4 linked regions of the Homo sapiens genome follow. The protein of the gene in region 3 interacts with the protein of the main gene of each other region in a pairwise test. Each region holds a gene or a part of one and is shown on either strand. Other genes may lie near its edges. The genes, in order: CCDC136, DSCAM, ZBTB47 and NCKIPSD.

Region 1 (5,371 bases), on a different chromosome or scaffold from region 3:
ATGTTTATCTGAGCGGTGAGTCACAATAGAAGGCCCCTTACTATCTTTGGCCTAAAATGAAGGTATCAGGACAAAGCCTGCATGGCTGGTGATGCCAGGCAGAACTCCCTTCAAGCATAGCTCTGCGGTTCTGAATTGCAGGACACAGAGAGCAACAGAGAGATGGCTGCAGTCCCAAACACTGAGTATGACGTCAGCAGAGTCTCAGACTTCAGAAATGGATTTCTTAGAGCCTGATCCTGAAATGCAGTTGTTACGGCAGCAGCTACGGGATGCTGAAGAGCAGATGCATGGCATGAAGAACAAGGTAGGGCACAGAGGGTGGGGAAGGCAGGCACATTTCTTGTCTTTCTTTCACCTTCTCCCAGCCTGTGGTAGAAACATCTCCATAGGCATCCACTGTGGAGGGAGATAGTACTCTGGGGTCTCACTTGCCTGATGTAAATCTTCCAGTCAAAGAGCGCCATGCTTTCCCCAAGCTTGTTCTTGGAGCATATGTGGTATCTGTAGTAAACAAGCCTCCCTGTTCCATTTCCCACATAGTGTCAGGAATTGTGTTGTGAGTTGGAAGAGCTACAGCATCATCGCCAGGTCAGTGAGGAGGAGCAGAGGCGGCTGCAGAGGGAGCTCAAGTGTGCTCAGAATGAGGTGCTTCGGTTTCAGACCTCCCACAGTGTCACCCAGGTAAACACTGCCCGGGGAGGCATCTGGGGTGGGGGCAGAAGGGCCTCATGGAGGGGCTGCTTCAACCGGGGTGGGCACAGTGAGTATGGCTGTGCTCTGCTGACTCTTGCCCTGCAACTGGGCACAGTCTGCTGGAAACCAACTGTAGAAGTCATATAGCACTGCATTCTAGAAATGGTGGTCATTACTGAGTGTCCATCTCACAGAAGAAACCAAACCCTAGACCTGTGGGAGCTCCTCAAGATGTCTGCATCTGAAAAGGAACCCAACTGATCCGTAGAAAGACCTGCTGTTTCTTGAGAGTAACTGTTCTACTCACATCCTCCCTACCACAGAATGAGGAGCTGAAGTCCAGACTCTGTACCCTGCAGAAAAAATATGATACTAGCCAGGATGAGCAGAACGAGCTCTTGAAGATGCAGCTGCAACTTCAGACTGAGCTCCGGCAGCTCAAAGTCATGAAATCCACACTTGTAGAAAACCAGAGTGAGAAGGTAACAGCAACCAGAGGTGAGGGGACAACTTAGGTGCTAAGGGCATCCTTCTGAGGTTTTGGGGAAGGTGGATAAGAGTAGTGAGTTAAAAATAATTCCAGCAACCACATAGGCAGCACCACAGGTAAAGAACTCCAGCCCTGCTCGAGTACTACATTAGATATGAGGACATTAGGAAGTGAAGGGCAGGAAGAAGCAAATCTTAGACTGTTGGTGTCTTCAAGTGACTCACACAGAAGAGTGAGTGGGTTAAGGAGCCCAAAGGCACTGCCCAAAGCCCCCTCTACCATAGGAGTTACTGTGCCGGCTGCAGAAGCTGCACCTCCAGCACCAGAACGTCACATGTGAGAAGGAAAAGCTGCTGGAACGGCAGCAGCAGCTGCAGGAGGAGCTGCAGTGCCATGAGGCAGAGCTGCAGCACCTCAGGGATACGGTGGCCTCCTTCAAAGAGAGCAATGAGAAGGTAAAAGAAGCTCCTGGTGAGGGAGGATGTAGCCAGGCATCATCTTGTGTGAGGGTGAGAGCACAGAGGACGAGAGGGAATGGTAGGAGTGTGGAGGAGCTGGCAGTGAGGGGGCCAAAGAGGTGCTTAGGAGAAAGGTGACCTCGGGGAGTCACAAGGCTCTCAGCTTCCTTTGATTTTAAATCAGAAAAGCAGCATATAAAAAGGAAGTCCCTTTGCCTCCCCACCTCCCAAAAAAGGAAGCCCCAGAAGGTCTGTGTTTCTTTTTAAATTATTTTTATATTTATTTATTTATTTATTTAACTGGAAAGGCTGCACTGGGAAGGTCTGTGTTTCAAGCCTGTCAGGGACGGGTCCATCTTGGGTATCTATCCCTGGCTGGGATGAAATTGGGGCTGAGAAGGACAAGGGAAGATGGGTCCCCTTAGTCCCCGCCTGGGAGGAGAGAGTCCAGCAGCAGGAGTGCCTGGGATGATGGCCAGGCCTGCCTCCCCTGCCCAGGACACAGAGACGCACGCTCAGCTTCAGGAGATGAAGCAGCTGTACCAGGCCAGCAAGGACGAGCTGGAGCGGCAGAAGCACATGTATGACCAGCTGGAGCAGGACCTCCTGCTCTGCCAGCTGGAGCTGAAAGAGCTCAAGGCCTCCCACCCCATTCCGGAGGACAAAGGAAAGTGTGCTAATAAGGTAATTGTCGTTCAGAGAGGTGACAGCTCCTGGGCACTTGCTCCAGAGAGAAGAGGTACAGAGGCAAAAAGTGAAGGCACCCAACCCAAGGGCTTGATGGCCTTCCTAGGCAGGAAGCAGAGGCAGGGCCACATGCTGCTAACTTCAAAATTGTTTGCCCTGACCTTGACTTTGAGCCAGAGCCACAGCTTAGTAGGATCAATACCTTTGGATCCCAGTCTGAACCCCTGAAAGTTTTACACATGATTCCATGTATGTAGACATTTATACAATGGTATTAGAACTGTAGTGATATCTAGTCATTCTTGGAGGGGAACATATACATGGGCCCATTACACAAATATTATTGTTGGAACTAGAGAAAGGGGCCAGTTTTCTGGGTCAGATTGCAAATGGTCTTATAAAGGGGTACGGTCTTGTGCCCAGAGTGCTGATTGGGCAAGAGAAGGACCTAGGCTCTTCTAGGATTTATTCTGTGACTTTGAAGTAGTTAAATTCTTTTTTTATGAAATGGAGTCTCACTCTGTCGCCCAGGCTGGAGTGTGCAGTGACACGATCTCAGCTCACTGCAGCCTCCGCCTCCTGGGTTCAAGCAATTCTCCTATCTCAGCCTCCCAAGTAGCTGGGACTACAGGCACATGCCATTGTGCCTGGCTAATTTTTGTATTTTTAGTTGAGACCGGGTTTCGCCATGTTGGTCAGGCTGGTCTCGAACTCCTGACCTCAGGTGATCCACCTGCCTCGGCCTCCCAAGGTGCTGGGATTACAGGCATGAGCCGCCATGCCCTGCCAGTAATTAAATTGTGGAAGGTTGAATTGTGCCCTCTTTAAATGGAAGAGAATACTACTCTTAACTCACTTCCTTTTAGCAGTAAATCCTGGTAGTGATAAATAAGGCCTTATTCATTTTTTTTCTTTTCCATAGTGTATAAAATGCAAGCCGTTATCATTTATCCTGTTGAGCACTTTCAGCTCCTGATTACTGATGGGAAATGGAAAGGTGTTGAAGCATGTTGGAGAAGAGGCCCAAGAGTCTCTAACGATGGTGGAGTTGGTCACATTCTGCCAGAAAACTCAGTAGTTCCTGTCCCTGGGGAAAGGCCTTCAGGAGACGGAGGACTGGGAAGGTTATTTGGGCCACCTCAGCAGTCTCTTTGCCTTTCTATATCCAGGCTCACGTTTCCTCCTTTTTCCACTGCTACTCAATTTAGGAGCCCAGGTGATCTGTGACTTGCTCGTCACCTCTTCCCCTAATGGGAAAAATGATGGGAAAGGAGAAGCATGCTGGCAGACAGCACCTGCTTTTTCTCTAGCCGTAAAACAGCATTGAGATCTGTCTGATATTAGAAGATCTGGGTTTTTGGAAATGGGATGATTTAGTCTTCTCAACCCAAATTTACCAATAGCGCATACTTTCTAAAGATTTAAAGAGAGAATTAGGAAAGCAAAAATGGGAAAAATTAGGGTGAAATTAAGTCCTTATTTGTAAGGAGTGTAGTTGCATTAAAAAACAACTGGGGTTAATGAGAATAACAGGAGCTAAGAGTTCCCAACAGGGTGGGAATATGGTGTATAAAGGAAAGGGCCGGAGAAGAGGAAGGGGGAAATGAGAAAGGGGCATCGATAGCATTCCCCATCAAACTGCCCCCAGAAAGGAATGGTGGAAGTTTAGAGCAAGGCCAGCCACCAGTCTAGAGCAACCTGCTCTGAAGGAGCAGCCTGCAGGGGATCCCCAATCGGTATCTAAACAGCCAGAATGCATTGTGGCTTGGGGTGACCAGTCCAAGGTGACTGCACAGGGAGAGGATCACAAGAGGCAGGAGAGCGCAGAAGTGCTCTGTTAGCCACCCAAGAAGCTTACCTTACAGAGTAACCACCCCCTCCACACCCGCCCCCACCCACAGTGTGACACACTGCTGTCCAGACTGACAGAATTGCAGGAAAAGTACAAGGCCAGCCAGAAGGAGATGGGGCAGCTGCAGATGGAGCAGTGTGAGCTCCTGGAGGATCAGAGGAGGATGCAGGAGGAGCAGGGCCAGCTGCAGGAAGAGCTGCACAGGCTCACACTGCCACTGCCAAAGAGTGGCCTCTTACTCAAGGTAACTCTGCCACAGGCAGCTGCTAACTGCGGGGAAGCTGCTCTGAGAAGCTTCCCTGTGTGACTAGGGAAAAATAAAAGGGTGGGGATTGAACTTTTTCTCTTACCAACCACTCCTTACTTTCTCACCACTCTCCCCAAACCAAAAAGCTCCATAGAGCCAATTAGAGTTTTTCTTATAAGGGCTTTAAATCTTAAAATACCTTTTATACTCAGGAATCTGTGCAGCAGTTTATATTTAGGTATTTAGTCCATCTGGAGAAAATGCACCTGAAGCCACTTTGTAAACTACAAAATATATCCCAACACAAGAGACCACTGCCACTTTTAGCAGGTCTCCATAGAAGGGCTCCCCCGTCCCCAGATGGGCTCTGTGAAGTCAACCCTGAGATTCTTCAGGGAATTGTTCACAACGGGGATGAGGCACCAAGGAGGCATCAGACTTCCTGTGTGACCACCACCATCCCTTGCCTCCTTCCTTCTACTCCGCCTCAGAGTCAGGAGCTACTCACCAAGTTAGAAGACCTGTGTGAGCTGCAGCTGCTCTACCAAGGCATGCAGGAGGAACAGAAGAAGCTGATACAGAACCAAGACTGTGTATTAAAAGAACAATTAGAGATCCACGAAGAGCTGCGACGTTTCAAAGAGTCTCATTTCCAGGAAGTGTTGGAGAATCCCGATGATTCCAAATTGGCTAAGTCCTCCAAATGTAATCGAAACAAGGTAACCATAGCAAGAGGTAGGGAGACAGTTCTCCTGAGCACAACAGCATGGCAGAGAGAGTGGGCACCGCCGAAGGGTCAGAGTTGGGAAGGCGTGTTTGGCCAGGGGTAAGGATAAGGCAAAAGCCCTGCCTTTCACCAGCTGTGACCACTCACAGGCTCCATTAAGAGGTGGCTTTTAGATACGGCCTGAGGACCTCACCTAGATGCCATTATCCTTTAT
Region 2 (6,134 bases), on a different chromosome or scaffold from region 3:
TGGAACTCACAGTTTAGTGAGAAATAAGTATGTTTCTTACTGAAGTCTATTACGTAAATACATTTGAAAAGACACTGGTGCATGTGTTAGGCCCATTCAAGGTCCTTCACCCATTCACCCTGTGGCAGATGCATTAATAGACAACCACGGAGAGGTGCACTCACACGGGGTCCCATCTGGTCCCAGGCAAAGAAGGGCCTGCACTTGGGGTTGAATTCTCTGTAGTCACCATCTTGAAATGTTTAATGATATCACCTCTGTTTTACCTTTTCTAAATCCAATGGGACAATGGAGCATGAAGAGGGCTTGGAGCCTTGGCTTCTGTACCATCCTGCTACCTGCCACCTGCCACCTCTCCTTTGGGAGAGGTTCTTGGCTGTCCACTTCCCAACCCCATGTTCCCCCAGCTCTTGAGCAGCCTCTGCCCCTGCAATTGTTGCTGCTTCCCAACAGGGTGGCAACTGCATCATTTTGGAACAGCAAGCCTGTGTTCTGCCACCACCTGCCATCTCTGGTGAGTGTATGGGCATGTGTGCAGGACAAGCACTGTGCAGGAGTTCAGAGAAAGGCCTCGCAGTGACCATCCCCTCAGCAGGCTGGCAGTGCCAGGGCACATTCCACAAGTGGCCAGAGGCTTGTGCCCACCTCCAATCCAGATACCCAGAGCTTCCCAGCATGGAGGTTGCAATCCCTGAGGGATCTCCTGTCCACTGTACATTGGGACAGTGGGCTGTGGGAGAGAGACAGTGGCTTCCCCACCCCCTAACTGTGGCTGGCCACAGCATGTGGGTGCAGCCAAGGGCAGGGAAGCAACTGGCAAGTGGAAGCCTCTTGTACTGCACTGAGTCACCTGGAAGGTCTGTGGGGTCTGTACAGGGGTGCATTCCCACGCCCAAGGAAGAGCAGCATGTAGCAGAAAACACCATGACTGGTTGAGAGAGGCAGGAAGAAAGGAGGAAGTGTTCTGTTTTAGCACTTGTTATGGTGCTTCTTTTTCATTTTGAGAAAGGAGCTCTCCATTTTCATTTTATAGTGGACCCCACAAATCATGTTTCCAGCCCTGCTCCCAAACTCAGTAACAGTTAACCACAGCCATCGCTAACTACAGTGACCATGTGCTGTCAACGGATGGAAAGATCTTCACACCTCTGTGAGTTAAGAACTGTGATAATTTCCAGTCTGCATATGAGGAAATTGAGGCTCGAGTCACATGCAGAAGCCCCACATCGGGGTAGTGGAGGAGCTGCAATTCGACCCTGGGTTTCCCTGACCCCAGTGCCTGGGCACCCTTGCAGGTGGCTAGTGTGCAAGTAAGAATTAATGAATAGGTCAACCAGCCAGATGCAGGGACAGAATCAGGCCCATCCCCTGCCTTCCTGGGTTGCATTTGGGAAGGACCAGGGACTGAGCACCCAGCATTTGCAAAGCCAGAGGATGCTGGTTCTGGTGCGTGGTACTGGGGGCTGGGCCTGCGCAGCCTGAGTGGGCGGCAGCACGTGATCACCTGCAGCTGCAGAGCCGTGGTGAGCCAGGCAGCATCACCGGCTCAGCTGACCCTTCCTGGTACACAGGGCCTGGCCATCTTGTGCCCAACCCTGGTAAAGCACCATTTTGTTTCTGCCTCACCATTTGCTTCTCCTGTGTTTTGTGAGCTGTCTGAGATGTGCATCATTCTTCTGTATTTGGAGGGGGACATGGAGCCCAGTTAGGATACCTAGTGCCTAGGAAAAAGCCTACTCAATTTCCCTTGAAAATGTCTCCCTTGACCCCCACCGAATGCTTTTTTTCAGTCCTGATTGTCCTGACTGTGAGCATTCCATCCTGGCTTCTACACTGGGGTGCATTCCAGCCCTGTCGGTCATTATATTGCAAAGTGATGGATAGATGTACGCCCTTGTGAGAGCTTTAATTTAAATATTATCATGACTTCAAGAATCATACAGAACATTCAGGAAATGTTAACATATTGACTTTTCACAGAAACGTGAAAGGGGCTATATGTTTGGGATTACTCAAATTATCAGCAATTTCAATCAGCTTTTTTATGCGCCATTCAGAGAGCAAAATTAGAAGTGCTTGTGTTTGCATTCTACCATGTATTCAAGATAATTAAAAATTAGCCCGTGAAATCATAGAGATCTTTACAGTAGCAGCAAGGATTTGGAAGGAGCATTTCCCTCTAAGCAAATGAACTGGACTTTTCTGAGAGTAAATACGGAATCGGAATCCAGCTGCACATTTTATTAAAACTACGAGCATTTCATGTTCACCTCTCCGTGGCTGGCCACCTTCCGCAATAGTCACCCCGGCCATCCCTTATTAGCAACCGGCAGGAAAATAACTAAAAATAAGCAGCTGTTGAAATGATTATTTAAGCCTCTAAGAAATTCCTCCTGATGACTGTGCGTGACTGTGCGGTGGCTGCGCTCTCCCCGGTCCTGCCTCAGTTCGGCTGCACGTCTCTGCTGCTGCTTTAAGACTGCAGAGCGCCCCAGCGGCCAGAGGCAGGGGAGGGGTCCCTGCTCGCCTCCGCGCTCGGCTTCACTCGCCCGGCTCGCAGGCAGGGAAGGTTGGCAGAGGGATCCATGTGACTGAGGCCGGAGCACGGCAAAGATGAGCCTGCCCGCCCGCCTGCTGCCTGGATGCGGAGGGTGAGGGCTGGCGCACGGGAGGCCGCTGGCTGCGCATTCTGGGCGCCGAGTGCCCGGGATGAGCTCACGCCCGCGTCTGCGGCTCTCTCCACCTGCCGACCTGCCGGGGGCCCACTGAGCTGACGGCGCACCTGGGCTCCGGCCGCAGCGTGGGGCGCGGCGCCCGGGAGCAGGTGTGCAGGAGCGCAGCGCGCGGCGAGCGCAGCCCTCGCTCCGGAGCCCGGCCGCGCCGCGTGCCCGGGCGGCTAGGCAGCGGCGGCGGCGGCGGCGGGCGGCGGGCGGGCGGCGGCCCCCGGGCAGGTGCCGAGCGGCGAGCGGAGCCGGGCCGGGCGGAGCGCGGGGGGCGAGGCCGGCGCGTCGCTCGCGGGAGGCCGGGGAGCGGCAGGGGCATGTGGATACTGGCTCTCTCCTTGTTCCAGAGCTTCGCGAATGGTGAGCCTTTCGGTTTGTGATGAATTTCGTTTCCTTATCATTGACCGGGGGGGCGGGGGGGTGGGGGGTGGCATTGGATGCATGGGTAAAGTCTTCTTTCTTTTTCCGCTTCATCTGTGTTTAAAATTTCGTGCTTTTATTTATTTTTTAAATATCATATTTATTTTTTGGGGGAGAAGAGGTGGCAATGGAGAGGCCCGGGAGAAATTGCTCTGTAATCATTGGAAGGCGCTTACCTAGCCAAGTGACAGCTCAGAGCCTAACTCCAGTACTAGAGAGCTGCCTCATTCAGAATAAACCAGGTTTGGTGACAGAAGGAGAGACAGGAAGATTGCCACTTTGAATATTACAACCTGGAAAGGGATGTGACATTCCAAGTGCACGCAAGTGGAGGGGTCAATGAGGAACATCTCCCTTCAGATTCAATGCTTTTTGAGATTTTTCAAACACGTAATTTCATGCTAGTACAATGTATCTCCAGCACCAAGGAGGGCTTTAAGAATGTTCTGTCCTTCTATGCACCCCGTGCTGCTTCATGCTCCTCACAGTCGTTTATGTAAAAATATGCACTGATAAGCATTACATCATCTGAAATGTTGACAAATTAAAAAAAAAAAAACACCTGTATAGTTGTAAAAATGAAATCAGTGAATATTGTAAATAGCATACATTTCCTCATGCCCAGCCAATATTATATTTTGAAATGATTTCTTCCTGGGTATTTAGAAAGCTATTGCTCTTGACTGAGTCAGACCCAATTAGTAAGTGTGACTGCACCTTAGGCTGCCTGTCACCGCATAAATATGAACTTACATGTATGAATGGCTTCCTCTCTTGTGGGAACCAGAGGAAATTGTCATCATTTGACATCGCCTGGGAGTAGCTACGGCTTAAATTCCCATTTCAAATTTTGGAACACACATCTGCATAAAATGTATAACCTACTGACAGTTGAAATTAAACCATTAAGCAGAATCCCCTAGCCAGAAGAGAGGAGAGAGAGAGAGAGAAAGAGAGGAGGGAGAGAGAGCGAGACAGACACAGAGACAGAGAGAGAGAGAGAGAGAGAGAGAGAGAGGAGAAGAAGAGAAGGTAAAAGAAGAGAAGAGAGGAAATCTGGCCCTTGTGAGAAAATACGAGAAGCAAAGGGGAGGCTCTAAGATTTTCCTGGAAGACACACAGGGAAGCTCTGTGTGTTGGCTGCAAGGCAGTGCATTTTCTTTGCCTACCTAGACAGTGCCTAAAGAATCAGCATACCAACAGGCCAGAAGAAATGCATGAGCATTGTCAATTTTTTAAAAAAACGGTGACTAAGAAAAGGTAGAGTTGAAAGAAGGTACTATCAAAATGAACATGAAAATGATACTTTGCTCTCCAGTATAACCTAAAGCAAAGTGTTTGAAACTTTCATTTTGAGATTTCCTAGCAGGAAAGAATTGCAACAAGTTCTGACAAGACACCCATCTTTCCCAGAGGGCACCATACCTGTCCTGTGTCCTCCTGGGAATTTCCCTTCAGGGACAGATGTGCTTAGGGAACATGCGGAGATGTGTCGGGGAAGTCAGCCCTTTCTGCTCTTCTGCTAATGCGACCTCCTAAGAAATGTAGAGATGCCTACACATGTGTTCCAAAGACACAGAGCCTTGACACCCTGTTTCGCCTGTCAGGGAGTACCTTTCTGAACTCCTTGGAAAGGCCTGGGTTATAAGAAGAAACAAAATTTGCACCCCATTGGGAAGTGTGTGTTTCAGGATGATGAAAGAGGCTGTGCTGGTTGTCAGTCAGCCAGTATTTATTTACAGTTTTAGCATTTTGTATGACAAAATGGTATGGAAGAATTTATGATACTGATACAGACTATTAGCCTCTGATACAGAGATGCTATATGTGTGTGTGACTTTTTTTCTGAATCAGCATTTTATAACTAAAATAAACAATCATAGAAATAATTATATATGGTAATACAATTATATGAAACCTCAAATATTCTGCAATATGAAAAATATATGCAAAAATTATGTAGGTACTCATATAGTGAGTTCTGCAAGTATTATTTTCAAGACTTTTAAAATCAACTGATAATCACCATTATTGTAATAAATATAGGTAGATTCCACAATATTAGACATAAACAGCAAACACAAATGAATATTTTACATTGCTGTATTACGTATTCTGATCCAATCTAGCAGAAGGCTATGGAACTGTCTTGTATAAAAATGCCCCTCTCTTTATATGATCAAGGATGAAAACATTAAAAGCCTGCTGTAAAGCTTTAGGATCTTTGAAGGGGGGAGGGGAAATCAGCTTTAAACAGTTTTCTAAGGTATGGTGTTCATTACATACTGGGGAAAGGATCATAAAATATATAGACATGTTGAAATAAAATAAGAATCCAGTTTGGAACTATGCCTGTTTGTAAGACCATATTTCAAAAATATAAGAGTAAATGGTTTCTACCTATCTGAATTAAACTTTAAAAAATTGAGAATATTTTTGTCAACAACTGTCATATTTTGTTATACCTCAACTTTGAAAAATTTCTGAATGTGTGTGATAAAAGATTGATGAATTCTAATACCTAAACTGATTATTGCTAGGCCTCAAGCATCAAAATGCCTGACATGATAACTTTTTTTTTTCATTTGTAAAAGATTATGTAGTTTAATATTTGGGGCTATTAAAATAAGCCCACAATACATCTGCATTTTAACAGTAGACAACAATATTTTTCTTATTGATGTATCAGAAGTACAGTTATTTCTTAATAAAAGTATGGTTGCTAGACAGGCTGCAGGCAGTATTTTTGAAAAAAAAAAAAAAAAAAAGAAGAAGTCAGTGACCAGGCCCTTCATAGGTTAAACCCTTAAATGAATGACCTCACCTGATGAGGTGCAGTATCGTGTTTTAAAGCAGTCAATTTGTTCTGCAATGTTCTGGAAATACACGCGAGCTTCTGTTACAGTGCAAGGAGCCAAGGTACACGTATGTGCAGACACTCACCCACACACGTCCCTCGGTGTCTTCTCAGCAAAGCTTCCTACTGCATTG
Region 3 (5,371 bases):
GGAGGAGGAGGGGGAGGAGGGGGAGGCTGGGGGCAAGCAGGGGCCACGGGGAAGCCGAAGCAGCCGGGCAGACCCCCCTCCCCACAGTCACATGGCCACACGGTCCCGGGAGAACGCCCGGCGCCGGGGTACCCCTGAACCTGAAGAAGCTGGGCGGCGGGGTGGGAAGAGGCCAAAGCCACCCCCTGGAGTGGCCTCTGCATCGGCCCGAGGGCCGCCAGCCACTGATGGGCTGGGGGCCAAGGTGAAGCTGGAGGAGAAGCAGCACCATCCATGCCAGAAGTGCCCACGAGTTTTCAACAACCGCTGGTACCTGGAGAAACACATGAATGTGACCCACAGCCGCATGCAGATCTGCGACCAGTGCGGCAAGCGCTTCCTGCTGGAGAGCGAGCTGCTGCTGCACAGGCAGACAGACTGCGAGCGCAACATCCAGGTGGGCCTCACGTGGCTGGGGGCAGGGCAGAGGCTGTCCAGGTGGGGCTAGGCCATAACTGGGCTCTGGGCACCTAGTGTCTTGCTGACTGCATTACCTAGGTGGTCTGCGGAGACCAGACTTAGCCCCCAGACAGGCTGGCCCAGGCCCAGTTCTCAGGGTGGTTAGAGCTCAGGGGTAACATCAAGCCGAGCTTCCTGGGAGAGGTGGATAGAGTTGGGCGCATGAAGAGATGTGCAGAGGATTGGAACAAACAGTACCCTTGGCCAGAGGGACAAAGGGGACACATGGACTTGGGAGGATGAGAGTGGAGAGTTGTCTGAGCAGACAAGGCCAGAAGACAGGCCACTCTGGGTGGGATGAGTCAGACGGGGTTTTAACAAACACGGGGGCTGTAGGAAGGCCAGCAGGGCCACTGTGTATAGTTTCACAGGTTGTGCACTGCAGCAAGTGAGCACACGATGGGAGGAGGGGTTTGCCCAGAGGGATGCCATCCTCCACTTCCCACAAAAGTGCTGTATGGAGGAGGGGGCAGCCCAGCAGGAGGCAGCCCCCACTTTCAGCTCTTTGGGGATGCCAGCTCCCATGGGCCTGGGAAAAAGGGATTGGGTGAGAAATTTGGGAAGAGCAGAGGCTGCTGGGGTAAGCAGGGGAGCTGAGCTGGCTGCTGGGCCTTGAGCCAGCCTGAGTCTGTTTGTGCCAGCCTCACTTCTCAGGGTGGGGTGGCACAGGGCCAGCCAGGCTCCCACGGGTGGTTTTCACCTCTTCTGGCCCAGGAGAAGGGGGAAAGGTAGCAGGTAGGTGGGTGCTAATTGCCTGCGCTAATTGCTAATTGCAGTGCCCTGTGGAGAAAGTGTTACCCGGGGGTCACCTGCTATCCTGCCCCACCCTTGTGTACCTGTGCCCACTTGCCCGCCTGCTGGGCTGCCCTTTGATGCTCTAACTGCTGCGCACCTGAGTCTCCCTCCTGAAGGAAAAAGAAGCTTCTGCCCCATCCAACCTGAGTACCCTGACCAATTTCTGCCCAAGCCTTGGCCTAGCCTCCATCCCTGTGGGGTGTCCTGCATAGATGGGCAGGACAAGGGTCCAGGAGAACAAATGGGGGGATATGGTCCCCAAGATCCCCCACCACTCTCTGTGCCTGATGGGACCTTGAGCCTCCTGCTGTCCTCCTCAGCCAACGCCTCTGGGACTCATCCTCTTGGCGATATTCATGGTGTCATGGCACAGGTCCCAGCAGGAGGAGGCAGCAGTGATAATGGCTCACTCTGTGGGACCTGTTATCTCTGCGTGTAGCCTCCATACCAGAGGGCGCCCTTCAGCTAGTTGTCTGCCTTACCTCTATAGACAGACAAAGGGTGATGCCTTTGGAAGCCCTTGTTGAAATGAGCCCAGAGTGGGGAATTTCCTGGAAGAGGTGACCCCTGACCCTAGTTAACTCAAGGATGAAGGAGGACACCAGGCTGTGTGTTTGGGGGTGTTTAAGGAGTTTTCATCCCCAACCTTAGAAACATCAGAGCTGGCTGGCTGTTGGCATCAAGGGCTCTCCAGCATATTTCAAGTGGGAAAACTGAGGCCAGACGGGGGCAGTAGCTTGCCCAAGTCCAAGACCCTGGGGACTCAGGACCCAGGGCCTCAAGTCCTCTTATTCTGCAGTGTGTGACATGTGGCAAAGCTTTCAAGAAGCTTTGGTCCCTCCATGAGCATAACAAGATTGTGCACGGCTACGCAGAGAAGAAGTTCTCATGCGAGATCTGTGAGAAGAAGTTCTACACCATGGCCCACGTGCGTAAGCACATGGTTGGTAAGTCTGGGCCACTGGGGGATGGAGCCAGAGGATAGAGATGGACCAGCTTCTGGCTGGTGGATGGGAAAGACTTCACATCCAAGGGCAATGTGAAGGGGTGAGGAGGCCCCTCTCAGCTAGGAGGCCTGGGGAGGTTGGTTCCAGTGGCAGGTGTAGCCTGGACAGGCTCTGGGGCCAGGGCTGGCATGTACAGTTGGGCAGGCTGCACATTGCACAAGGGTGCCTGGACAAGATGGCAGGTGGGAACCGGAATCAAGCTGGCACACTGCTAACCAGGCTGTGCATCCTGGCACGGGCTCGTGTCCACCCAGGGAAAAGAATACCTTTTCCTAATTATACAAAGTGCTGTATGGGCTGGTACAGGCCCTGTGTCAGTTTGATGACAGCTGTGCCTCTGATTCTTTCTTACCTTCTGGTCCTCATAGGGCTTCAGGCCTCTCTGAATGCAGCCTCCCCTCAGGGTTCATGCCTGGACACAGTAAGGAGGTCCCCCAATTGTGTGTTTTGGCCACGCCACTGCCCCAGGCAAGGCTGCCCACCTGCTGTATGTGGGCCTGGCAGAGCCTCATGTCCCTACAGCCCTGCCTTCCTTGCCCGCTCCAAGTCTGGGCCTTGAGGGGGAGGGGTAGCCAAGGCAGACAGTGAGCCCCTGGCCAGGTCCTAATCCCTTTCTCCATGAGACAGTGCTGGGGGCCCTCCAGCATGAACTGACTGGAAGCTGGGACCCTGCGGCCTAGGTCTCAGCCAGGAGCATGCTGGGTAAACCAGGACTGGTGTCTGTGAGCTTGAAGGTGAGCCTTCTGTCTCCAGTGGCCACCTACCAGATCCTTGAAGAGTTTGTTAGTCCTCACCCATCCGTGGGTGCTGGGAGGAGTGCAGCTAACTTCCTCCAGACTGCTGGCTAGGGCCTGAGACCAGGGCCTTTCTGCATATGTCCCCTCTAAAGCCCACCACCCCTGAAGCTCAGGACCACTATGAGTCCCTTTTTATAGGAGAGGAAGCGGAGGTCCAGAGAGACTGAGTGGGAAGCCAGTGGTCGGGCCGGGATTTGAGCTGAAGCCAGGTCCACCCAGGGTCCTTCCATCCTTCCCTGAAGCTTTGGGGGCAAGGCAGCCTTGGCCACTTCCCTTGACCAGAGGCTAAAGAACCACAGAGCCCCAGCATGTCTGAGGCAGACCTTCAGAGCAGATAGGAGACCCAGCCATGGAGGCAGGGGGCCTCTCCTGGGAATCAGCACAGGTCCTGGGACAGAGTATAAGGCCAGCCCCAGAGAAGGGTGGTGGCACAGGGCTGCCCCAGGAGGCAGGGTCTGGGCCCAACGTCGGGGTGCTTGGGCAGGCCCGTAAAACATGATGGCCCTGGTGCCCACCTCGTAGCCCACACCAAGGACATGCCCTTCACCTGCGAGACCTGCGGAAAGTCCTTCAAGCGCAGCATGTCCCTCAAGGTGCACTCACTGCAGCACTCAGGGGAGAAGCCGTTCAGATGTGAGGTGAGCTTCCATCTCCTGCCTGGCCTGCCCGAGGGGTCACCTGGGAGGGGCAGGAATCAGGGAGCGCAGCTGCTGAAAAACAAAGGGCTAGGGGGTGGAATGTAGTGTCCAGAAAGAGAGAGCCCTGCCCTCTGAGGTCTGCAGCCCCTGCCTCCCACTCCCACCCAGCCCCTACTCTTCTCTGGCCCACTCCCATCCTGCCCTTCCTTCCCCAACCCAGCCCCACACACTCAGGGTGGGAAGTGTGTGTGGGCTACAGCCCTAGGAGCAGGCTTTCTGGGGAGGCAGATTCAGGAGCATCCCAGGCCTGGAGCTCAGATGAGACAACAGAGCTGCAGGTGGGGAGGTGGGGGCAGGGGCTGGGCGTCTGATCAGGAGGAAGGATGAGGGACCTCGTGCCTTAAGCATGGGGCTCCCTCTACTCTCTGGCTTTTTCCCACTTCCGACCCCCATTCCCCACCTAAGCCTTGGGTGCTTGTGGCCTCTCCTCTTGTGCCCATGTACTGCCCACCCAGATGCACCTCGGCTTGCCCTCATGTCCCCATCTCCTTGCCCAGGAGCCCCTGAGTGTGTCCCTCCTTGGCCCTGTGGCCACAGGGGAGCTGTTCCCTCCACAAAGGCTGCTCTTCTGCTCTGTGCCTGGGCCTCACCCCCAAACCCCACCCCCAGAACTGCAATGAGCGCTTCCAGTACAAGTACCAGCTGCGGTCACACATGAGCATCCACATTGGCCACAAGCAGTTCATGTGCCAATGGTGCGGCAAGGACTTCAACATGAAGCAGTACTTCGATGAGCACATGAAGACCCACACAGGTGCGGCTGCCCCTGGGGACGGAGCTCGGTGCCGGGCCTGGGACCCCTTCTCAGCCCCGCTCAGGACACCTGGAATAATCTTGGCCACACCCCTTCTCAAGTCTGGGCCTCCGTTTACCCATGCTTCCTGCCTCCCAGGGTTGGGTGAGGCTGGCACAAAATGCCCCAGGGTCGGGGAGGATCTGAGAGCGCCGGGGCTGGGCCCCACTATGGCTCCATGGGAGACGGAGGCTGGCCCCAGACTGGGGTGTGGCGACCCCTCACTGACGCCCTGCTGCCCACCCCCAACCCCCAGGAGAGAAGCCGTACATCTGCGAGATCTGTGGCAAGAGCTTCACCAGCCGGCCCAACATGAAGCGGCACCGGCGCACGCACACGGGCGAGAAGCCGTACCCGTGCGACGTGTGTGGCCAGCGCTTCCGCTTCTCCAACATGCTCAAGGCCCACAAGGAGAAGTGCTTCCGCGTCAGCCACACCCTGGCCGGCGACGGCGTCCCCGCTGCCCCAGGCCTGCCCCCAACCCAGCCCCAGGCGCACGCACTGCCCCTGCTCCCGGGGCTGCCCCAGACCCTGCCGCCCCCGCCCCACCTGCCGCCCCCGCCTCCGCTCTTCCCCACCACTGCCAGCCCCGGCGGGAGGATGAACGCCAACAACTAGCTGCCGAGCTGCACCCGTGCACCCGCTGGGGCCTGGAGTCAGGGCCCACTCCAGGAGGGACCCACTGCCTTCCCGGGGAGCACAGTAGTGCGGGCCTGGGCCCTGCTCCACCTCCAGAAGTGGCTGGATGTACCCTGCCTGAGGCCCCGACGAGGAGGGGTATGC
Region 4 (5,371 bases), 6.0 Mb from region 3:
GTGTGTGTGTGTGTGTGTGTGTGTGTGTCTTCATGTCTTTCTATCCCCCTGTCTCCTCTCCCTGCACTCTGGCACACCTCATACCACCTGGAGGGCTTTGCTGACCTCTGTGCCCACCTGTCTGTGCCCATCAGGGAAGCTTCTCAAACCCATGGTGGAATGAGTTCATCTCAGCTCCGGGACTCCTATGTAGCCTGATGGACTACGTGTGCCAGGGCCAGGGGAGGGCTGGGGGTAGCTGGTTTGATAGCTGCTACCCTACACTCCCCATGTCAGATAGGCAGAGTAGACTGGATCCCTGGAATGTTGGGGATGGCAGTACAGAGCCTGGAACAGGGGCTAGGCCCCTCTCTCATGTTTATCCTTTGCCACAAACACAGAACTGCTTCCCAGGGTGGGTTTGGAAGCTTACTGAGACATCTTGTGGGGATGAGGGCCAGCAGCAGGGTTGGGGAGGGCAAGTCCCTTTGACCCATTCTCAGCTCCCAGGGCTTACAGAGGGCCCTTACAAGGACAGGGCTGTTCTGGGGTATGACCTTGGTTTTGTGAAAGATCAGCAAGATGCAGAGTGATGTATTAAGGATTCCAGATACTGGAGACTTCCTGTTTGGCATCTCAACCTGGGCTCTGAGCCAAGACCAGGGATAGACGAGGTATGCGCTCCTGGCTGCAAGCTGGGAGCCCCTGGGCTATGTTTTTGCTTTAGACCTCTGATTTTCAGAAACATCTTAGCCAAGAGCCTTGCTGTGGGGTAAAATCCTGATCAGGACCTAATATGTAATGTGGCAGCATGGGGGTCACCCTGTGCCTCAGCTCCCTGAGTGATACAGTTTGAGAACCCCATTCCATATTCTGGTTCAACTTTTTGTGCTATGTCTAGCATTCCAGGCTTTCGCTATATTGGTTCTCTGCCCTGGGTTCTATCTCGGGCTGGGCCTGGGCTGAGCACCTCCGTTTGGCCTTCAGGTCTAACTGCTGTCCCCTGCCCCCCCCAGGGCCTGGAGCAGGATGTCCTCCAGGCCATTGACCGGGCCATCGAGGCTGTACACAACACAGCCATGCGGGATGGTGGCAAGTACAGCCTGGAACAGCGTGGAGTCCTCCAGTGAGTGTTGAGGGGAGTGAAGTGGGACCTCCCGGTGAGCATGGTGGGGTGGGGTTCTTCAATGAGTGTCATGGGGCAGGTGGGCCTGGGAAATGCGAGGGTTGGCAAGGGTGGTGGGGGAATGGCACCTCCCAGTGAGCAAGGTGGGGTCGGGTCCTTCAGTGAGCACCAGGGGTGTGCAGAGCGCAGGACTGAGGATAGTATGGGGTACTGTAGGCTGGGGTGGAGCATGGAGGAGATGGGGATGTCTGAGGGGCCTGGGCTATGGGGTCCCAGCATCCCACAGGGGCATATGAGGACTTTGAGCTGTGAGATGCAACCCCCCAATAGTCTTCCTGTCCTTCCATCAGGAAGCTGATCCACCACCGGAAAGAGACCCTGTCACGCAGAGGCCCTTCAGCCTCCAGTGTTGCAGTTATGACCTCATCAACCAGTGACCACCACTTGGATGCTGCTGCAGCCAGGCAGCCCAATGGGGTGTGTCGAGCTGGGTTCGAGCGGCAGCACAGCCTACCCAGTTCTGAGCATCTTGGGGCAGATGGAGGCCTCTACCAGGTGTGTGGGGAGGACATCGTGGAGAAGGGAGGTGGGTGGAACTTGAGGCTTCATCCAGAGGCTCAAGGGGTCCACTCAGGAGTGATGCGGCCCAGAGCCATAGTCCTGCCCACAGCCAGGGCTCAGGGCCCGAGCCTCGCTGACGCTCTAGATGTCAGTCTGTCCTCCAAGATCCTACTTCCATCTTCCAGATCCCACTTCCATCTTCCCAGATCCCACCACAGCCTCGCCGAGCAGCACCCACCACACCGCCCCCACCAGTGAAGCGCCGAGACCGCGAGGCCCTGATGGCCTCTGGGAGTGGTAAGAAGGCAGGGTTAGGGGAATTCAGGTGGAGGCACCCTATGCTTGGAATGGTTGTGCTGCCTGTGTCAGGGAAATGGAGGCTCTAAGCTGGGGAAGAGGACAGGACTCCCATTTTGGGGCAATTAGGGGCTCTGGGCTTTGTGAGGAGGCAGTGCCTAGCAGAGAAACTAGGCCCTGTGTTAGGGGACAGGGGATCTGGGCTGTGAAGGGTATGGTTTTCCAGGGGGCTGCCCTGGCCCAGCTTCTACTCACTGCTCGCAGGTGGCCACAACACCATGCCCTCCGGGGGTAACTCTGTGTCCAGCGGCTCCTCAGTCAGCAGCACCTCCCTGGACACGCTCTATACCAGCTCCAGCCCATCTGAACCAGGCTCCAGCTGCTCACCCACACCCCCACCTGTGCCCCGCCGAGGCACCCACACCACCGTGTCCCAAGTCCAGCCCCCTCCCTCCAAGGCATCAGCACCTGAACCCCCTGCAGAAGAAGAAGTGGCAACTGGTACAACCTCAGCCTCTGATGACCTGGAAGCCCTGGGTACACTGAGCCTGGGGACCACAGAGGAGAAGGCAGCAGCTGAGGCGGCTGTGCCCAGGACCATTGGGGCCGAGCTGATGGAGCTGGTGCGGAGAAACACTGGCCTGAGCCACGAATTATGCCGGGTGGCCATCGGCATCATAGTGGGTCACATCCAGGCCTCGGTGCCGGCCAGCTCACCAGTCATGGAGCAGGTCCTCCTCTCACTCGTAGAGGGCAAGGTGAGGGTGGGCGGCACAGCAGGGCCACCCTGCTACCCACCCTGTTCCCACCGTCACACACTTGTCCAGCCTGTACATTACAGGTATTTCTCAAGCTCTGGCTCTGAGCTCTTACTGTGCTGGGCACTGGGGACGTTGAGCTGATTTCTGAAGCAGAAAGGAAGGACAAGCATTCCAGGCAGATGCGCAGCCTGGACAAGGGCCACAAGGCAGGACTGAGCCTGGCTTGTGGGAGGAAGTGGAACAAGGCCTGCAGGACTGGAACACAGGGAGTGAGGGAGTGGGTGCTGTAGGAGGAGGTGAGACCTGGGGCAGGTGACAGATAAGACGACATGCGGGTGGCCAAGAGTTCTGTCTGGCTGCAGGGAAGGAATGGACACGGCGTGGGTGAGGGTAGTGCCTTGCTGACCTTGGCAGTAAGAGACATGGGTGCTGGGAGAGCTGGGATGGAGTCCTAGGTGCTGACATGGATGAGAGGGAGTGAGGTGTGTGGGCATCATGGGATGGGTGGGATCCTTGGCACTCATGAGCAGGATGGGGGCAGTGAGCCCAGCATACATGATGGGGGTCAGACAGACCAAAGGTCCCTCTTTAGTGCTCCATGGTTCCTGTTACACTTCTGGTTTGGGTGTTGGGGAGTGGGCCAATGGGCTTGGCTGTGCTGGGCACAACAGCTAGTGCCTGGTCAGCAGGGTTCAAGGAAAATGTGGCAAGTTGGTAGATGACAGGCCTGTGCCATTTTGTGTGGAATGGGAGAGTGAGGTCTCAGAGTCACATTCTGGCAGTGACAGAGTTCATGGCCCTCCTAGTTGGGGGTGTTTATCCAGGTCTGGGATGAGAGGCGAGCTGTTGAAAACCCCCTACAGATGAGTCTCCCGTTGACTCCTGTCCTGGGAGGTCATCAAGACTGGAGTTGAGCCTCCTGTCCAGTGTGGGCCAGGAGGGACTTGAGTTCATGGAGTAAAAGTCCACAGATGGACTCTCCAGGCCTTGGAGGCTCCCTGGAGATGGTGAGGGCAGGGAGTGTGCTGAGTCATGCCTTGCCCTCTCCCTCTAGGACCTCAGCATGGCCCTGCCCTCAGGGCAGGTCTGCCACGACCAGCAGAGGCTGGAGGTGATCTTTGCAGACCTGGCTCGCCGGAAGGACGACGCCCAGCAGCGCAGTTGGGCACTATATGAGGATGAGGGTGTCATCCGCTGCTACCTAGAGGAGCTGCTGCATATTCTGGTAAGGGTGGGGTCCCACACACATACCCCACATGGGGAACAGTGGCCCCCACCCTGTAGCATCCCTCACAGTGCTAGGAGTCTCCCCTACACATATGTGCTCAGCCCTCTCTTGTGCGGCTGCACAGCTCCGCTCATGGTGGCTGATGCTCTCACTTCCTCATTTCTGTAGACTGATGCAGACCCTGAAGTTTGCAAGAAAATGTGCAAGAGAAACGAGTTCGAGTCTGTCCTGGCCTTGGTGGCCTATTACCAAATGGTATGTGCAGGATGGAGGGGAGGGGTAATGGAGAGACCTAGATAGTGGGGGAGTTCCAGGCACTGAGCACGCAGGGTTCCCTGCCAGGAACACCGAGCATCACTGCGGCTGCTGCTCCTCAAGTGCTTTGGCGCCATGTGCAGCCTGGATGCAGCCATCATCTCCACGCTTGTGTCATCCGTGCTGCCTGTAGAGCTGGCGAGGGACATGCAGACAGACACGCAGGGTGAGGCTGGAGGGCGGGGTAGGAGGGAACTTCCTGCTATCTGGAGGGTGTTCCTGCCATCTGCTGGGGTTTCCTGCCATCTTTGGGGACTCTGACTGCCTGCCTTGTCCCCCCCAGACCACCAGAAACTCTGTTACTCTGCCCTCATCCTGGCCATGGTCTTCTCCATGGGAGAGGCAGTGCCCTATGCACACTATGGTAAGAATGCAGTAACCGACCAGCTGATCACAGGTCCTAAGCCAGGGCCCATTGCCCGAGGGCCTGGGACCTGCTGACTACACAGCCTAGCAGGGAGAGGCTATCCCCAAGGCTCACAGAAAGCCAGGAAGGGTGGGTGGTGCGGGGGTCGGAGGGGAATGGGGCTGCAGACTTCTGTGCGCCCCTCTCCCAGAGCACCTGGGCACGCCTTTCGCCCAGTTCCTACTGAACATCGTCGAGGATGGGCTGCCCTTGGACACCACAGAGCAGCTGCCGGACCTCTGCGTGAACCTGCTTCTGGCTCTCAACCTGCACCTGCCAGGTGGGGTGGGGCCTGGCTGGGCGGTGGCTGAGCACATGGTGGCTCTCAGGCTCAGCACCCTGTCTATACCCATGTCCTTCCTTAGCTGCTGACCAGAATGTCATCATGGCTGCCCTGAGCAAACACGCCAATGTCAAGATCTTCTCCGAGAAGCTGTTGTTGCTCCTGAACAGAGGGGGTGAGGGCCCGGGAATCTGCGCGGGTACCACTTCCATGCCCTGTGACTCCATGACCCCTGCAATGACTCCCGTAACCCCCTGGGGTGACTCTGGGATCCCCACAAGGTCCACCCTGACCGCTATGACCCCTGCCTCCTAGATGACCCTGTGCGCATCTTCAAACATGAGCCACAGCCACCACACTCTGTCCTCAAGTTCCTGCAGGACGTGTTTGGCAGCCCGGCCACAGCTGCCATCTT

Evidence for each region.
Region 1: the proteins of ZBTB47 (region 3) and CCDC136 interact in a two-hybrid assay, tested with the Homo sapiens proteins (one large-scale study listed by BioGRID).
Region 2: the proteins of ZBTB47 (region 3) and DSCAM interact in a two-hybrid assay, tested with the Homo sapiens proteins (one large-scale study listed by BioGRID and IntAct).
Region 4: the proteins of ZBTB47 (region 3) and NCKIPSD interact in binary tests that used the Homo sapiens proteins (3 or more experiments, as listed by UniProt).

Annotation. Positions count from the first base shown.
Region 1 is NC_000007.14:128,805,218-128,810,588, forward strand, and holds part of CCDC136 (coiled-coil domain-containing protein 136), read left to right. Parts: intron 1-141; coding exon 142-307; intron 308-543; coding exon 544-684; intron 685-1,019; coding exon 1,020-1,178; intron 1,179-1,470; coding exon 1,471-1,641; intron 1,642-2,142; coding exon 2,143-2,328; intron 2,329-3,318; exon of another isoform or gene 3,319-3,547; intron 3,548-4,232; coding exon 4,233-4,427; intron 4,428-4,921; coding exon 4,922-5,149; intron 5,150-5,371. UniProt on the Homo sapiens protein: May play a role in acrosome formation in spermatogenesis and in fertilization.
Region 2 is NC_000021.9:40,843,568-40,849,701, reverse strand, and holds the start of DSCAM (cell adhesion molecule DSCAM isoform CHD2-42 precursor), read left to right. Parts: upstream 1-2,543; 5' UTR 2,544-3,040; coding exon 3,041-3,083; intron 3,084-6,134. UniProt on the Homo sapiens protein: Cell adhesion molecule that plays a role in neuronal self-avoidance. Promotes repulsion between specific neuronal processes of either the same cell or the same subtype of cells.
Region 3 is NC_000003.12:42,659,393-42,664,763, forward strand, and holds part of ZBTB47 (zinc finger and BTB domain-containing protein 47), read left to right. Parts: coding exon 1-436; intron 437-2,092; coding exon 2,093-2,240; intron 2,241-3,619; coding exon 3,620-3,735; intron 3,736-4,404; coding exon 4,405-4,549; intron 4,550-4,844; coding exon 4,845-5,206; 3' UTR 5,207-5,371. UniProt on the Homo sapiens protein: May be involved in transcriptional regulation.
Region 4 is NC_000003.12:48,678,637-48,684,007, reverse strand, and holds part of NCKIPSD (NCK-interacting protein with SH3 domain), read left to right. Parts: intron 1-995; coding exon 996-1,105; intron 1,106-1,455; coding exon 1,456-1,660; intron 1,661-1,851; coding exon 1,852-1,963; intron 1,964-2,227; coding exon 2,228-2,721; intron 2,722-3,778; coding exon 3,779-3,949; intron 3,950-4,120; coding exon 4,121-4,207; intron 4,208-4,294; coding exon 4,295-4,433; intron 4,434-4,550; coding exon 4,551-4,631; intron 4,632-4,824; coding exon 4,825-4,953; intron 4,954-5,038; coding exon 5,039-5,131; intron 5,132-5,271; coding exon 5,272-5,371. UniProt on the Homo sapiens protein: Has an important role in stress fiber formation induced by active diaphanous protein homolog 1 (DRF1). Induces microspike formation, in vivo. In vitro, stimulates N-WASP-induced ARP2/3 complex activation in the absence of CDC42.